Linked DNA regions of Homo sapiens. The protein of the gene in region 2 purifies or fractionates together with the protein of the main gene of each other region. This does not show direct contact. Each region holds a gene or a part of one and is shown on either strand. Other genes may lie near its edges.

Region 1 (7,051 bases), on a different chromosome or scaffold from region 2:
GGGCAGGTTTAGGGATGCCCTTGCCTGTAGGAACGTTGTTGTTATGCTATAGCCCATTGGTATGACTATGGCACTCTTTTATTCCTCCTCCAGGATCTCCAGAAAGCCGCCTGTCCTTCCAGCATGACCCTGAGACCTCTGTGTTGGTCCTGCGCAAGCCTGGCATCAATGTGGCATCTGATTGGAGTATTCACCTGCGATAACCCAAGGGATGTTCTGGGTTAGGGGGAGGGAAGGGGAGCATTAGTGCTGAGAGATATTCTTTCTTCTGCCTTGGAGTTCGGCCCTCCCCAGACTTCACTTATGCTAGTCTAAGACCCAGATTCTGCCAACATTTGGGCAGGATGAGAGGGCTGACCCTGGGCTCCAAATTCCTCTTGTGATCTCCTCACCTCTCCCACTCCATTGATACCAACTCTTTCCCTTCATTCCCCCAACATCCTGTTGCTCTAACTGGAGCACATTCACTTACGAACACCAGGAAACCACAGGGCCCTTGTCGCCCCTTCTCTTTCCCTTATTTAGGAGCCCTGAACTCCCCCAGAGTCTATCCATTCATGCCTCTTGTATGTTGATGCCACTTCTTGGAAGAAGATGAGGGCAATGAGTTAGGGCTCCTTTTCCCCTTCCCTCCCACCAGATTGCTCTCCCACCTTTCATTTCTTCCTCCAGGCTTTACTCCCCTTTTTATGCCCCACCGATACACTGGGACCACCCCTTACCCCGGACAGGATGAATGGATCAAAGGAGTGAGGTTGCTAAAGAACATCCTTTTCCCTCTCATTCTACCCTTTTCCTCTCCCCGATTCCTTGTAGAGCTGCTGCAATTCTTAGAGGGGCAGTTCTACCTCCTCTGTCCCTCGGCAGAAAGACGTTTCCACACCTCTTAGGGGATGCGCATTAAACTTCTTTTGCCCCCTTCTTGTCCCCTTTGAGGGGCACTTAAGATGGAGAAATCAGTTGTGGTTTCAGTGAATCATGGTCACCTGTATTTATTGCTAGGAGAAGCCTGAGGGTGGGGGGAGATGATCATGTGTGCTCGGGGTTGGCTGGAAGCCCTGGGTGGGGGGTTGGGGGAGGACTAATGGGGAGTCGGGGAATATTTGTGGGTATTTTTTTTACTTCCTCTTGGTTCCCAGCTGTGACACGTTTTGATCAAAGGAGAAACAATAAAGGGATAAACCATAAATAACTGGTGGTAGTCTGGATTCTAGTTCTAGCCTGAGCCACAGACCCTAGAAGCCTAGAGACCTTACATTTGCTTTCCTTTTTTTTTCTTTTTTGAGACTGAGTCTCACTCTGTTGCCCAGGCTGGAATGCAATGGCATGATCTGGGCTCATTGCAACCTCTGCCTCCCAGGTTCAAGCAGTTCTCGTGCCTCAACCTCCCGAGTCGCTGGGACTACAGGCATGCGCCACCATGCCCAGCTAATTTTTGTATTTTTATTAGAGATGGGGTTTCACCATGTTGGCCAGGCTGGTCTGGAACTCCTGACCTCAGGTGATCCGCCTGCCTCGGCCTCCCAAAGTGCTGGAATTAAAGGAGTGAGCCACTGCGCCCTGGGTCTTTTTTTTTTTTTTTTTTTTTTTGAGACAGAGTGTCGCCAGGCTGGAGTACAGTGTGTGATCCTGGCTCGTTGCAACCTCTGCCTCCTGGGTTCAGGCAGTTCTCCCACCTCAGCCTCCTTAATAGCTGGGATTACGGGCACCTGCGACCATGGCCAGCTTCATTTTTGTATTTTTAGTAGAGATGGGGTTTCGCCATGTTAGCCATGCTGATCTTGAACTCCTGACCTCAGGTGATCTGCCCGCCTTGGCCTCCCAAAGTGCTGGGATTACAGGCGTGAGGCACCATGCCTGGCCATGGGCCTTACATTTTCATTTGGCTTCAGCATAAGCATCCTTTTTGGGTTTTTTTTTTTTTTTTTTGAGATGGAGTCTCACTGTTGCCCAGGCTGGAGTGCAATGGTGTGATCTCGGCTCACTACAACCTCTGCCTCCCAGGTTCAAGCGATTCTCTTGCCTCAGCCCCCAAGTAGCTAGGACTACAGGCACCTGCTACCACGTCTGGCTGATTTTTGTATCTTTAGTAGAGATGGGGTTTCACCATGTTGTCTCGAACTCCTGGCCTCAAGTGATCCACCTGCCTCGGCCTTCCAAAGTGCTGGGATTACAGGGATGAGCCACTGTTCCCGGCCAGCATGAGCATCCTTGATTTCAGCAAAATGAGCAAGTGCAAGCCTTCCTTGGGTTGCTAGATATTTTCGTAGAAGAGCCCAGCAAGATCATCACATTTTAGTAGGCCTAGTTAGTAAGTGGTGATCAGAGCCAATGGAGTCCCTCTTGGATAGAAATAGCCATAAGGTCAGATAGCTGTTTCTCAAACTAAACTTTTGGAGGATGTCGGGGGTTGAGGAGACATAGTTTCGCTCTATTGCTCAGGCTGGAGTGCGGGGAGTGCTGTGGTATGATCCTGGCTCATTGCAGCCTTGACCTCCCAGGCTTCTAAAGTTCTGGGATTACAGGCATCGATCACTGTGCCCAACCTAGAGGCTTCTGCTTGTAGCTAACAGCACTTTTGTTTTTGTTTTTGTTTTTGAGACGGAGTCTCCCTCAGTCGCCCAGGCTGGAGTGCAGTGGTGCGATCTCGGCTCTTGGCAAGCTCTGCTTCCCGGGTTCACGCCATTCTCCTGCCTCAGCCTCCTGAGTAGCTGGGACTGCAGGCGCCCGCCACTACACCCTGCTAATTTTTTTGTGTTTTTTAGTAGAGACGGGGTTTCACCGTGTTAGCCAGGATGGTCTCGATCTCCTGACCTCGTGATCCGCCTGTCTCGGCCTCCCAAAGTGCTGGGATTACAGGCGTGAGCCACCGCGCCCAGCTGCTAACAGCACTTTTTAAAGTTTCCCATTGTTTTAGTGACAGGAAGTATACTGTTCCCCCTTCCCCTCATTTTGTAGACTGACCACAAGTCAGAGATTATTTTACCAGAAACTTTTTTTGGGGGGTTATTTTTTTTTTGAGACGGTCTCACCCAGTCACCCAAGCTGGAGTGCAGTGGCATGATCACGGCTCACCACAGCCTCAGCCTCCCATGTCAGCCTCCCAAGTAGCTGGGACTGTAGGCCCGCGCCATCACACCCAGCTAATTTTTGTGTTTTTTTTGTAGAGACGGGGTTTTGCCTTGTTGCCCAGGCTGATCTGAAACTCCTGGGCTTCTAAAGTGCCAGGATTACAGGCATGAGCCACTGGGCCGGGCCCTTTTTTTTTTTTTTAAAGGAAAAATGAGAAGGATGGCTTGTGCTTGTGAGGAGGAAGGGGATGCATTCATGGAATTCCCCAGCTCAGGAACTATTTCCAATCAATTTCCTGGTAGTTAAAACACTTCCTTGGCACCCCTGTTGTCATCTGTTGAAGAAATGTGGGCCAGAGGACACACTAGAGATGCTGGAATCGGGTGTCCAGAAAGGACACAAAACTGCCCTGTGGCAATGACATAATTTTTGTCAACTTTGGTTTCTTATCTATCTCAAAGTATTATAGTGAGGATTCCAGGAGAGACACCCAGAGGATCATGTGGTGGGCCTTAGATTTCATTCGTGTAATAAGTATTGAGCAACAGCTATTGGGTGGCGTGACTGACTGGATGGATGAATAAGGTGAAGATCTGGGCGCCAGGACTGGCTTTCTCAGGCAATTCCGTGATGAGGGGGCGGGTCTCGAGGTAGGTACCACGTGCACCTACTCGAGATTCTGCACCTACCCGGGGTTTTGACTGCCGGCCACGCGAGTTTGGCACGCCGGATGTGACGTCACCACCCGGTGGTTCCCGGAACCTGGCGGTGGGACCGGAAATCAAGTCTACAAGGCGGGGGGGTGCACAGATGACCGGAAGCGTGCCCTGGCGGCGCTGCCAGCCCCAGCTGGGAGCTGGTAGGGGAGTGCGAGGAAGGCGGGACGCAGGGCGGAGCCGCTGCAGGGGCGGGGCCTGCGGACAGGAGCCGGGGTTTGGGGCGGGAACCCCTCGTCCCCTGCAGACCCCGCCTGCTCGGGCGCGGGCGGCGGCGCGGCCATGAAGCTGAAGCTGAAGAACGTGTTTCTCGCCTACTTCCTGGTGTCGATCGCCGGCCTCCTCTACGCGCTGGTACAGCTCGGTGAGCGGGGCGGGGCGGGGGTGCGGCGGGCTGGCCCGAGGGCGCCCGCCGCCGTGCATCCCGCCCTGGGGATGAACCCCCGGCAAACACCATTCATCCGCTCGGCCCTCCGGACAGCTCTGCGGCCTCAGGCGCACTGCCCTCTATAGAACGCACCGCGGCTACCCGCCGCACCTCGGATGAAATCCAGACTCCTTCCCAGAGCCTGCAAGGCCCCGCATGATCCTGCTGCCGTCCGCCTCTCCCAACCCCATTTCCACCCCTCTCCCTCGCTCTGCTGCAGCCAGACTGGCTTGCTGACAGTTTCTCGAAAACCCCACGCTCATTACTCTCTCAAGCACTTAACTTGTTCCCTCTGCTTGGGGTGCTTTGCTTCCAGCGTTTCCCGGGCTGCCTCTTTCTCATCCTTCAGGTCTTAGCTCAAATGTCACCTCCTCAGAGAGGCCTTCCCTGACCACCATAGCTAAAGTTACCATTCTTAATTCCATTCCCTTTTATTCTCTATCCTGATTATTTTCTTCATGGCCCCATCACAGTTTGTAATAATGTTATTAATTTGTTTCTTTGCTTAGTGTCTGCTTCCTCCACTAAACAGAAAGCTCGATGAGGGCAGGGACTGTGTCTGTTTTGTTCCCTGCTGTATCCCCAGCACCTAAGGCAGTGCCTCCTAGGAAGAGTATTCAATAAATATTTATCCTACGATGGAATCAATGAATTTAACAATGAGTCTTTGGTCACCTAGCCAAGGGAATGGATCGAACCCTGCCCCTTATGCAAAGATTTAGGGACAGTGCCACTGCGTTATCCTCAGGTATTTGAAAGACTGTCCAAAAGGGGTTCCATAGTGTAATGGTTAGTTGGCACCTTGGACTCTGAAAAGACTGTCCTGTTTAAGGACATGAGCTTGTTAGAAGCCCAGAAGGCAAAATTAGGACCAGCAGGTAGAAAAGATGGAATCAGCTCAATATCCAACATAAAATTGTAACAATGGAATTTATTAAAGTTGGAGAGGGTCTGCTGCTTGAGGCAGTGAGTTTCCCACACGAGAGGTATAGAAAAGGCTACTAGGGAAGTCATAAGGTGATACCTGCATTGGTTAGGAATTAATGAGACGATTACGGCCCTTTGGGATGCTGAACATTCTGCGGTTCTCTGTCCCCACCTTCTTTCCCCATTAATGCTTCCTGGGACCAGGCCAGCCATGTGACTGCCTTCCTCCCCTGCGGGCAGCAGCCGAGCAGCTACGGCAGAAGGATCTGAGGATTTCCCAGCTGCAAGCGGAACTCCGACGGCCACCCCCTGCCCCTGCCCAGCCCCCTGAACCCGAGGCCCTGCCTACTATCTATGTTGTTACCCCCACCTATGCCAGGTATGGGCTCTGGTGCACTCAAGAGGTCTGCGTTGTCCAAGAAGTTGGAGTTGATGATGAGGAGTTTGGGGAGGCACTGGGCTAGGAGTTGTTCCTCAAACTAGAGCATGCCAAAGACAGGATAAATGAACCACATTTATACTCAAATATTTGTGGGAAAATAGTTCTTTTTCAGGCTGGGTGTGGTGGCTCACGCCTGTAATCCCAGCACTTTGGGAGGCCGAGGCGGGTGGATCACCTGAGGTCAGGAGTTCGAGACCAGCCTGGCCAACATGGCAAAACCCCGTCTCTACTAAAAATACAAAATTAGCCAGGCGTGGTGGCGCATGCCTATAATCCCAGCTACTGGGGAGGCTGAGGCAGGAGAATCCCTTGAACCTGAGAGGCGGAGGTTGCAGTGAGCTGAGAGTGCGCTATTGCACTCCAGCCTGGGCAACAAGAGTGAAACTCCATCTCAAAAACAAAACAAAACAAAAGAAAAAAGAAAAAAAATAGTTCTTTTTCTAGAAGGAAAATACAAAATTTCTACCAAATTATAAGATAGAACAATAACATTTCAAAGAAATTTTGAGCTTGGCAGTGAATTAACTCTCTCTCCTTAGGGACCGTTTGGCAAGAAAGTTAAAACCCCCTGATTAAAGTTGAAAGGGCTTGTCTGGGCGCAGTGGCTCACGCCTGTAATCCCAGCACTTTGGGAGCCCGAGGCTGGCGGATCGCCTGAGCTCAGGAGTTTGAGACCAGCCTGGGCAACATGGTGAAACTCTTGTCTCTGAAAAAAAAAAAAAAAAAAAAAAAAAGTTAGCTAGGCGTGATGGTGCATGCCTGTAATCTCAGCTACTCTGGAGGCTGAGGTGGGAAGATTGCTTGATCCTGGGCGGCGGAGGTTGCAGTGAGTGGAGATCATGCAGCCTGGGCGACAGAGAGAGCCCATTTCAAAAAAAAAAAAGTTGAAAGTGCTTGGCCTGATAGTCATACTAGGGTCCAGAAATAGTTATACCAGCTGTTACTTACAGTGTGTTTACTCTCTAGCAGGCACTGTATTTAGTGATTTACATTTGCTTTTGTTTTAAATCAAATGTAATTGGTTTTACTAATAAAACCAATTGGGGAATGTGGTTTTGGATCTGTAGCCATAAGGGTGTTAATACATCTTCTGGGAATCAGATGGCTGTCCCATTCACGCATAGGAAGCTCTAGACCCCACCTGCGACATGCACACACAACCAGCCCTGGGACAGGCAGGTAGATCTGAAGGATAAAGAAGTACAGAAGAGGCCAAGCCCCACGTTCCACATTCCTGGTTTGTTCCTTTTTTTTTTTTCTTCCCCCCGCCTCCCCGCAACACCGAGATGGAGTCTTGCTCTGTTGCCCAGGCTGGAGTGCAGTGGTGTGATCTTGGCTCACTGCAACCTCCACCTCCCGGGTTCAAGCGATTCTCCTGCCTCAGCCTCCCGAGTAGCTGGGATTACAGGCGTGCACCACCACACCAGGCTAATTTTTTTTTTTTTTTTCCCGAGATGGAGTCTCACT
Region 2 (6,977 bases):
TCCTGACCTCGTGATCTGCCCGCCTTGGCCTCCCAAAGTGCTGGGATTACAGGCGTGAGCCACCGCACCTGGCCTGTGGTCCATATTGATTTTAGACCTGAGCTGCCCACAGTATCAGCCTCCAAAATGTGTATTGTGTTGGTAGTGCTCTCTTGGTTTAGCTCTGTGTTTCCCTCCATGACCCTCTTTCCCTCAACTGTTTCTCACTAGGGCCCTGCATACTCACATCTGACGGAGTTTGCACCACCCCCAACTCCCATGGTGGATCACCTGGTTGCATCCAACCCTTTTGAAGATGACTTCGGAGCCCCCAAAGTGGGGGTTGCAGCCCCTCCATTCCTTGGCAGTCCTGTGCCCTTCGGAGGCTTCCGTGTGCAGGGGGGCATGGCGGGCCAGGTACCCCCAGGCTACAGCACTGGAGGTGGAGGGGGCCCCCAGCCACTCCGTCGACAGCCACCCCCCTTCCCTCCCAATCCTATGGGCCCTGCTTTCAACATGCCCCCCCAGGGTCCTGGCTACCCACCCCCAGGCAACATGAACTTTCCCAGCCAACCCTTCAACCAGCCTCTGGGTCAAAACTTTAGTCCTCCCAGTGGGCAGATGATGCCGGGCCCAGTGGGGGGATTTGGTCCCATGATCTCACCCACCATGGGACAGCCTCCCAGAGCAGAGCTGGGCCCACCTTCTCTGTCCCAACGATTTGCTCAGCCAGGGGCTCCTTTTGGCCCTTCTCCTCTCCAGAGACCTGGTCAGGGGCTCCCCAGCCTGCCGCCTAACACAAGTCCCTTTCCTGGTCCGGACCCTGGCTTTCCTGGCCCTGGTGGTGAGGATGGGGGGAAGCCCTTGAATCCACCTGCTTCTACTGCTTTTCCCCAGGAGCCCCACTCAGGCTCCCCGGCTGCTGCTGTTAATGGGAACCAGCCCAGTTTCCCCCCGAACAGCAGTGGGCGGGGTGGGGGCACTCCAGATGCCAACAGCTTGGCACCCCCTGGCAAGGCAGGTGGGGGCTCCGGGCCCCAGCCTCCCCCAGGCTTGGTGTACCCATGTGGTGCCTGTCGGAGTGAGGTGAACGATGACCAGGATGCCATTCTGTGTGAGGCCTCCTGCCAGAAATGGTTCCACCGTGAGTGCACAGGCATGACTGAGAGCGCCTATGGGCTGCTGACCACTGAAGCTTCTGCCGTCTGGGCCTGCGATCTCTGCCTCAAGACCAAGGAGATCCAGTCTGTCTACATCCGTGAGGGCATGGGGCAGCTGGTGGCTGCTAACGATGGGTGACGCTGGTGAAGTGGCCCAGGGAAGTGCACATGTCTCTCCCTGCTCTTCCAGGGTGATTTTTTTGATGTTTGGCTCTTGGTCCTTGTTTCCACTGGCTTTCCATCCCCATGGGGCAGAAACAGTGGCTCCTGGGAGCAGAAAAGGAATTGAGGTGGGCAGGCAGAAGAGCCTGGATTGCTCACTGTTTTGGGAAACTTACATGTTGAGATCTACAGAGATCCAGGAAACCAAAGCCCTGCTGAGCAGAGCCATTTTGTGGCTATTTCTGGAGGCCCAGGAGTGTGGCTGCAAGAGAAAAGGGGCTGGAGGAAGATCCGGAGGGCAGGGGTGTTCCCTCTGCTGATGATGGATGCCCCTAACACCTGTGCCTAACACCCCTACTGAACCCCACAGCTCCAGCCTTAGTTTTTGGAGTCAAGTGTTAAAGGTTTCTGGCCAGAGGAATTGGGGTCTTGCCATCCCTGCAATAGCCCTTTTATGGGCTCTGGGAGACAGCTTTAGGGAATAAATGGGGATTTTCCCCTTTTTCTACCCACTCCTTTGCTTCCTCCAAGACTTACCCAACTCCTTCCCCCTCAGAGAACCAAATAGCCTGAGGAAGCAGGAGAGTTCCTGGTTATGGCAGTTTCTTGGTGATTTGGGGCTTCAAGACAGTAGGTGAGAGATGCTGTCAGGACGTATCTTCTTCATACCAAAGTCACTGGTCCTTTCTCAGCCTCTCTCGTGCTTTTCTCCTAATGACCATATTTTTGCCAAAAATTGGGATATGTTATCTGACAGACCAGAATATTTGAAGTTTGGGCTGTCCTGAAAGTCTGGACTTTGGTGGTACCCTCCTCCCCCAGCCCATCTGTTGCACATTATACTCCGTGTGTTCTTCAACTTTCGGCGCCCTTATTCCCCTGCCTTCCTGGCTTGATTGAAGGAAAGCTTGAAAAGGCGCAGAGCCCTATACCTCATTTCCTCCATGATAAAAGGATCCAAGTGAGGCCCTGTCACAGCCTGTGGGTAGGGGATGCGGCGGGATCCTCATTGCCATGGTACTCAAAGGTAGAAGAGCCTGGAGTTTGTTGCTTCTCTTTGCTATTCTTTCATATCCTCTTGGGCCTGGTGATTAATTAGCAATTCTCATTCCTCTCAGCCAAAGGCCTGCACTGGGCTTTATTTGTCTTTTTTTATTTTTTAAGCACTGCCTGCCAGAGATGGGCCTGGGGCCTGATGAGGACCTTAGCGCTGCTCGTTCTCCTTTTCTGTTCATGCACACATTCCTCCATGGGGTGGGGAAGGCAGGCATGGGGTGTGGCCCTCGGAGAAGTTAGGAGTCCCCCAGCTCAAGATACAGTGGCAAAGACCTAGTGGTCCCCTACCCCCACTTCTCTCAGTTCCTGGCATGAGGAGAGAAGACCCTGCTCTGGTGGAGCTGACAACCTTTGAGGCTGGGAGGAGAGCAGCCTCTGGGCATCGTTCCCAGTGTCCCTCACACTAAAACGGCGTAGATGGCAACCCCCCACCCCCACCCCGCTGCTCAACTCTTGTGTTTGTTGTTCTGTTTGCCCCATTTATCTGTTGCTGTTTTTGTGTTGTCTTCCCCTGCTCCGCATTTTGTAAAATGGCCCCTGGGGGAGTGTTTTTGCTGGATCTGCTCCCTCTCGCTCTCTCACTCCACTACTTTTTGGAACAAAGTGATGGCAGAATGCGGTGGTGGTGGGGGTCTTTTGTACTGTTGGATTAATAAAATGATTTTAAAATCCCAGACAAGGACTCCTTGCTGTTGCTGTGTGAAAAGGCTGGAATGAGCCGCTGTCACTGCTGGGTAGGGTGCTTAGGGGTTGAGGATATGTATGCTCCCCAGGGTCCCTGGGAGTGGGAATGGCAGATTTGGCCCCTGAGCTGACCCTGGTATAAGCTGCTGAGCCAAGGGAGGCCTGTGTTTCCCCGCCCATCCCCCTGTGTCTCCACTGTGAGAAACTGAGTTTCCTTTTTGAGCATATTCCTGGGCCAGGCCTGGAGCCAGGCGGATTTGGCACCACAGCCTCTGGAAGACAAGTGCTTGAGCTCTTCTGGGTTTAGCACCCCACCCACCTCCCAGTTGTTTGGGTTAGGGAGCAAGTGTCGCTCTAAGGGTGAGGGGAGGGGCTGCTTCTGTCCTAGCAAATTTCATTTTGGGATGTTTTTCAGATCGTTCCCGTCCCCCAACCGTTTTTTAAAGTAGCAATGGCATCTTTTAAGCAGTCTGTTTTGGAGCAGATTGGGGAGAATGGCAGGAGGGCTATTTCCACACCCTGGATTTGCGACCTGTCCCTCTCCCTTCCCCCATCTCACAGCTGTCTCTGTCTATCCTGGGGCCAACCTGGCCCCTTGTCTTCGTCATCTCAGAAGACGGCACCGTCTGCTTTTCTCTCAGTTTGTGGGGGTTCCCTCTAGAAACTGTTTAGACACTGGGAAAGAAGGGCAGGAAACTCAGGATTCGGTTAGCTGGGACCCCGGTCGCCCACCAGGAGGTAAGCCCAGGTTTAGGGCCGTGTCGCTAGACCTCCCTTCCCCTCCCCTGGCTCTCAATTCCTGCTCTTATTGGCCAAAAGTTTCCGCCCCCTTGGGGAAGTTGACTTTTCATTGGTCAGTTTCTGGTCACATGATTTTCTTCTCGGGCTGCAAACAAAGGGAAGCCTGCAACAAGTTAAGCTGAAGACCGAAGCAAGAGCTGGTTCAGGTAATGCCTTAGCTGGGAAGGGGTCCACAGATTCGCTTTGAAGGGGGTGGAATAAGGAAAAGGGAAGGCGGAACTAATCTAGAAGGAATGAGCTGCTTTTCATTTCTGGGCTGGGGGAGGAAGGCCAGGTGCCGACGCTAACACAACAGGAACTTGCTCTGGGTACCCCAGGCAAGTGGCCCTAGATCCTTTGCTTTAGCGGTTTGGAGGAGCAACTGTTAGAGGAGTTTAAATTAACTAGAGGCGAGACTTCCTAGCTTTATGCTGAGTGGGAGAGCTCCCCCTTTAGCTGTTTTTTAGAAATAGCAGAAGTCTCTGTCATAATCCTTACAGGAGGTGTTTGTTGAATCCTGCCTGAATGAAAAGAAGGGGGTGGAGGGAGGGAGTGGAGGTGGGTTTTCTTCCAGAAGGTCGATGAAAAGAAAAAGATCTGGAAACACAGCAGGGAAGGGTGGAGATTAGACAGCAGAAGGAACTTCCTAATAAGGCAGTGAGATGCTGGCTTGGGAGAAGAGGTGTTTTTTTGAACCCTGGGTTAACCTAACCAAGAAAGAGGTATCAGGGTTTGGAACCCAGAGTATAGGAGTTTCAGAGTGTCTCCTATTTGGGTCTCATAAGTATTTGTTTTGTTGACCCAAATACCTTTGCTGGTTTCCATGGAGACAGTGGGTCTGACATCACTGTGGTTGCCATGGTGCCTGGTTCTAGAGGACCTGAGCAGGCTGCACACACAGCTAGGGATAAACAGGGACTTCAGCCCAAGCTGCTGCCACTTCCTTCCTGCCACCACCTGTTAACAGTCAGCAACTGGGGATGGGGAGATGATAACAAGGGCGGGGGTGGAGCCACAAGCGGAAGGCTGAACAGCCATGGCTCTATGGATACTTACAGATGCATGCCAGGGTGTCCTGTTGGATTTGGTACAGGGAGGTCATTGCAGCCATTCTCCTGTCTCCGTGTGGAATGGGTGCATGTGTCTGGGAGGATGGGCATTGGGAAAGACCTATCCAGGACTTGGATCTTGACTGGCAGGAGCCACAGGAGGTTACTTAGGGCACCACGCAGGACTTGAAAACAGCTCAAACAGAAGGGGATAATGTGGTTGGTTTCAAAGGTAGAACTGCCATACTCTCCCAGCCTCACTTCCCTTTTCCTGAGTTTTCTTATAAAGTGCTCGGGAAGCAGTCATTTATCCTGTTCTGAGGGATCACAATCCAGTACTCTTGAGAGGTCAGCTCATCTATCCTTCCACCTTTATGCCTGGTCCCAACAGGAGCTGCCTGAGGGAACTGTTTTAGCCTTGGATGAAGGGGCGGATCCCTCTCTTCTTACCCTGCTTTGTGTCAGTCAGGCTTTGGAAACTGGAGTGATTCCCTCCCCTATCCCTGTCAAGTCAGAGCAGATTAACCGGGTGCAGGACCATAGCCCTGATTTTTGTCTATTTTTTGCAAGCTATAAAGTGATGTATATATACATGATAGTTGCCATAAATCCATTTTCCCAGTCACCTTCAAGTTCCCTAAGACCAAACTCTGGCGATTACTAAGAAGGTAAACAGAATTTAGGATGAAGACTGAGAGTGATGAGGAGACTTATAAAAGGTGCATCCAGGTGGATCTAAGCTATGCCAGTGGCTCTTAACCCTGGCTGCGCATGAGAATCATTTGAGTGGTTTTTTAAAAGACCCACAGCCGGGCCTACCCCCCAACTCAATTGAATCAAAATCTTAGGTGATTCCAATGTGCAGCCAAGATTGAGAACCACTGAACTAGACCATACCAAGGACTTATGCTGGGCAAGTGGTGGGACACTTAGGGCTGAAGGAGGCCATTGAGTCTTCCCTTCCAGGTCCTGGGGGAGAAGGTAGTGATTGTGTAGGTACCTGGTGTTGTGAAGGGAGGGCTGTGTTGTTTCCCTGCTCTTCTTATTAACAAGTCTTCTTATTGGCAAGTTGAGTCTGTCAACCTTGCTGGGCTTCATCTTCCCTGACTCAAATGTCAGGGGGCTGGACTGGAATTCCCCAGAGCCTTTCCAGCCTATGCTACTTTGACCTTTCAAGGTCAGTTCAGTTTTCCAAGGCCCTGTTGGTCCCTGGAAGAGGCTGGCTTCTCTGTGGGTGTTGGCAGATTCTGATTTGCAAGGCAAATACTGCTTAGAAGAGCTGGGGTGTCAGGGAGAGAAGGACTGGAACCAGGCTTGGTTCTGGAGGCTGCTGCCCAGCACTTGAACCTTGGAACCCAGCCAAGGCTGCTTTCTGCATTCTGCCCCTCCTGAAGGGAGCTCCCATCCTTAAGAGAGCTTTCTTCTGCAGGTGGCAGCCACAGCAGCCTCAGGGACCTCAGCAACTATGGCCTCCTGCCCAGACTCTGATAATAGCTGGGTGCTTGCTGGCTCCGAGGTAGGAAGAGCGGGCCTGGGAACCATGGGGGTGGGGTTGGGGGGTGTTTCTGCAGTGCTGGGCTTCTTTCTTGGTGGGTCCTTTTCCTTAGTCCTGATGGTCACCTACATCACTTCCTGCTGGCTGTTAGAGGAATTCCAGTAGCAGGAAGAAGTAGATCAGGCCCCAGGGGTCAGGTGTTGGCACTTGGACCATGCCATGAAGGAAGGGACCAGTTGGGTAAGCTGAGACAAGTAGGGATGGATTTCGAATGGAGAGACCAATGTGAACAAAGGTCCTGAGGCGATAGTGGGGAACGCCATGCTGGGGGAGACTGTGGGACACCCATGGGTGATGTGGAGACGTGGGTTGGAGCCAGTGTTGGAGTGAGGTTGGGGACAGAGCCTGGGAACCCCTGGAAGAGACCGGAAGAGCCTGGCTGAGGCCTTCAGGCCTCATCCTGATGGGAAATCAGTGTGGGGCTTTGGGTTAGAGGGATCAGGACAATCATTGTCTCAGGCAGAGGGTGAAGCCACTGTGCATGCTGGGTGGGAACAGGGAGAGAGTGTTTCAAAGACCCCCTGCAGCAGTCCAGGTAGCAGCTGGTGGGGC

Evidence for each region.
Region 1: the proteins of PBXIP1 (region 2) and B3GAT3 purify together in Homo sapiens (affinity purification with mass spectrometry; 4 studies listed by BioGRID and IntAct, with this or other methods). This does not show direct contact.

What each region holds. Positions count from the first base shown.
Region 1 is NC_000011.10:62,618,967-62,626,017, reverse strand, and holds the start of B3GAT3 (galactosylgalactosylxylosylprotein 3-beta-glucuronosyltransferase 3), read left to right. Parts: upstream 1-4,031; 5' UTR 4,032-4,070; coding exon 4,071-4,152; intron 4,153-4,198; exon of another isoform or gene 4,199-4,902; coding exon of another isoform or gene 4,903-4,963; intron 4,964-5,346; coding exon 5,347-5,521; intron 5,522-7,051. Other genes in the region: GANAB (neutral alpha-glucosidase AB isoform 3 precursor), read left to right, coding at 94-203. UniProt on the Homo sapiens protein: Glycosaminoglycans biosynthesis. Involved in forming the linkage tetrasaccharide present in heparan sulfate and chondroitin sulfate.
Region 2 is NC_000001.11:154,953,080-154,960,056, reverse strand, and holds the start of PBXIP1 (pre-B-cell leukemia transcription factor-interacting protein 1), read left to right. Parts: upstream 1-3,957; 5' UTR 3,958-3,988; intron 3,989-6,299; 5' UTR 6,300-6,335; coding exon 6,336-6,386; intron 6,387-6,977. Other genes in the region: PYGO2 (pygopus homolog 2), read left to right, coding at 211-1,278. UniProt on the Homo sapiens protein: Regulator of pre-B-cell leukemia transcription factors (BPXs) function. Inhibits the binding of PBX1-HOX complex to DNA and blocks the transcriptional activity of E2A-PBX1.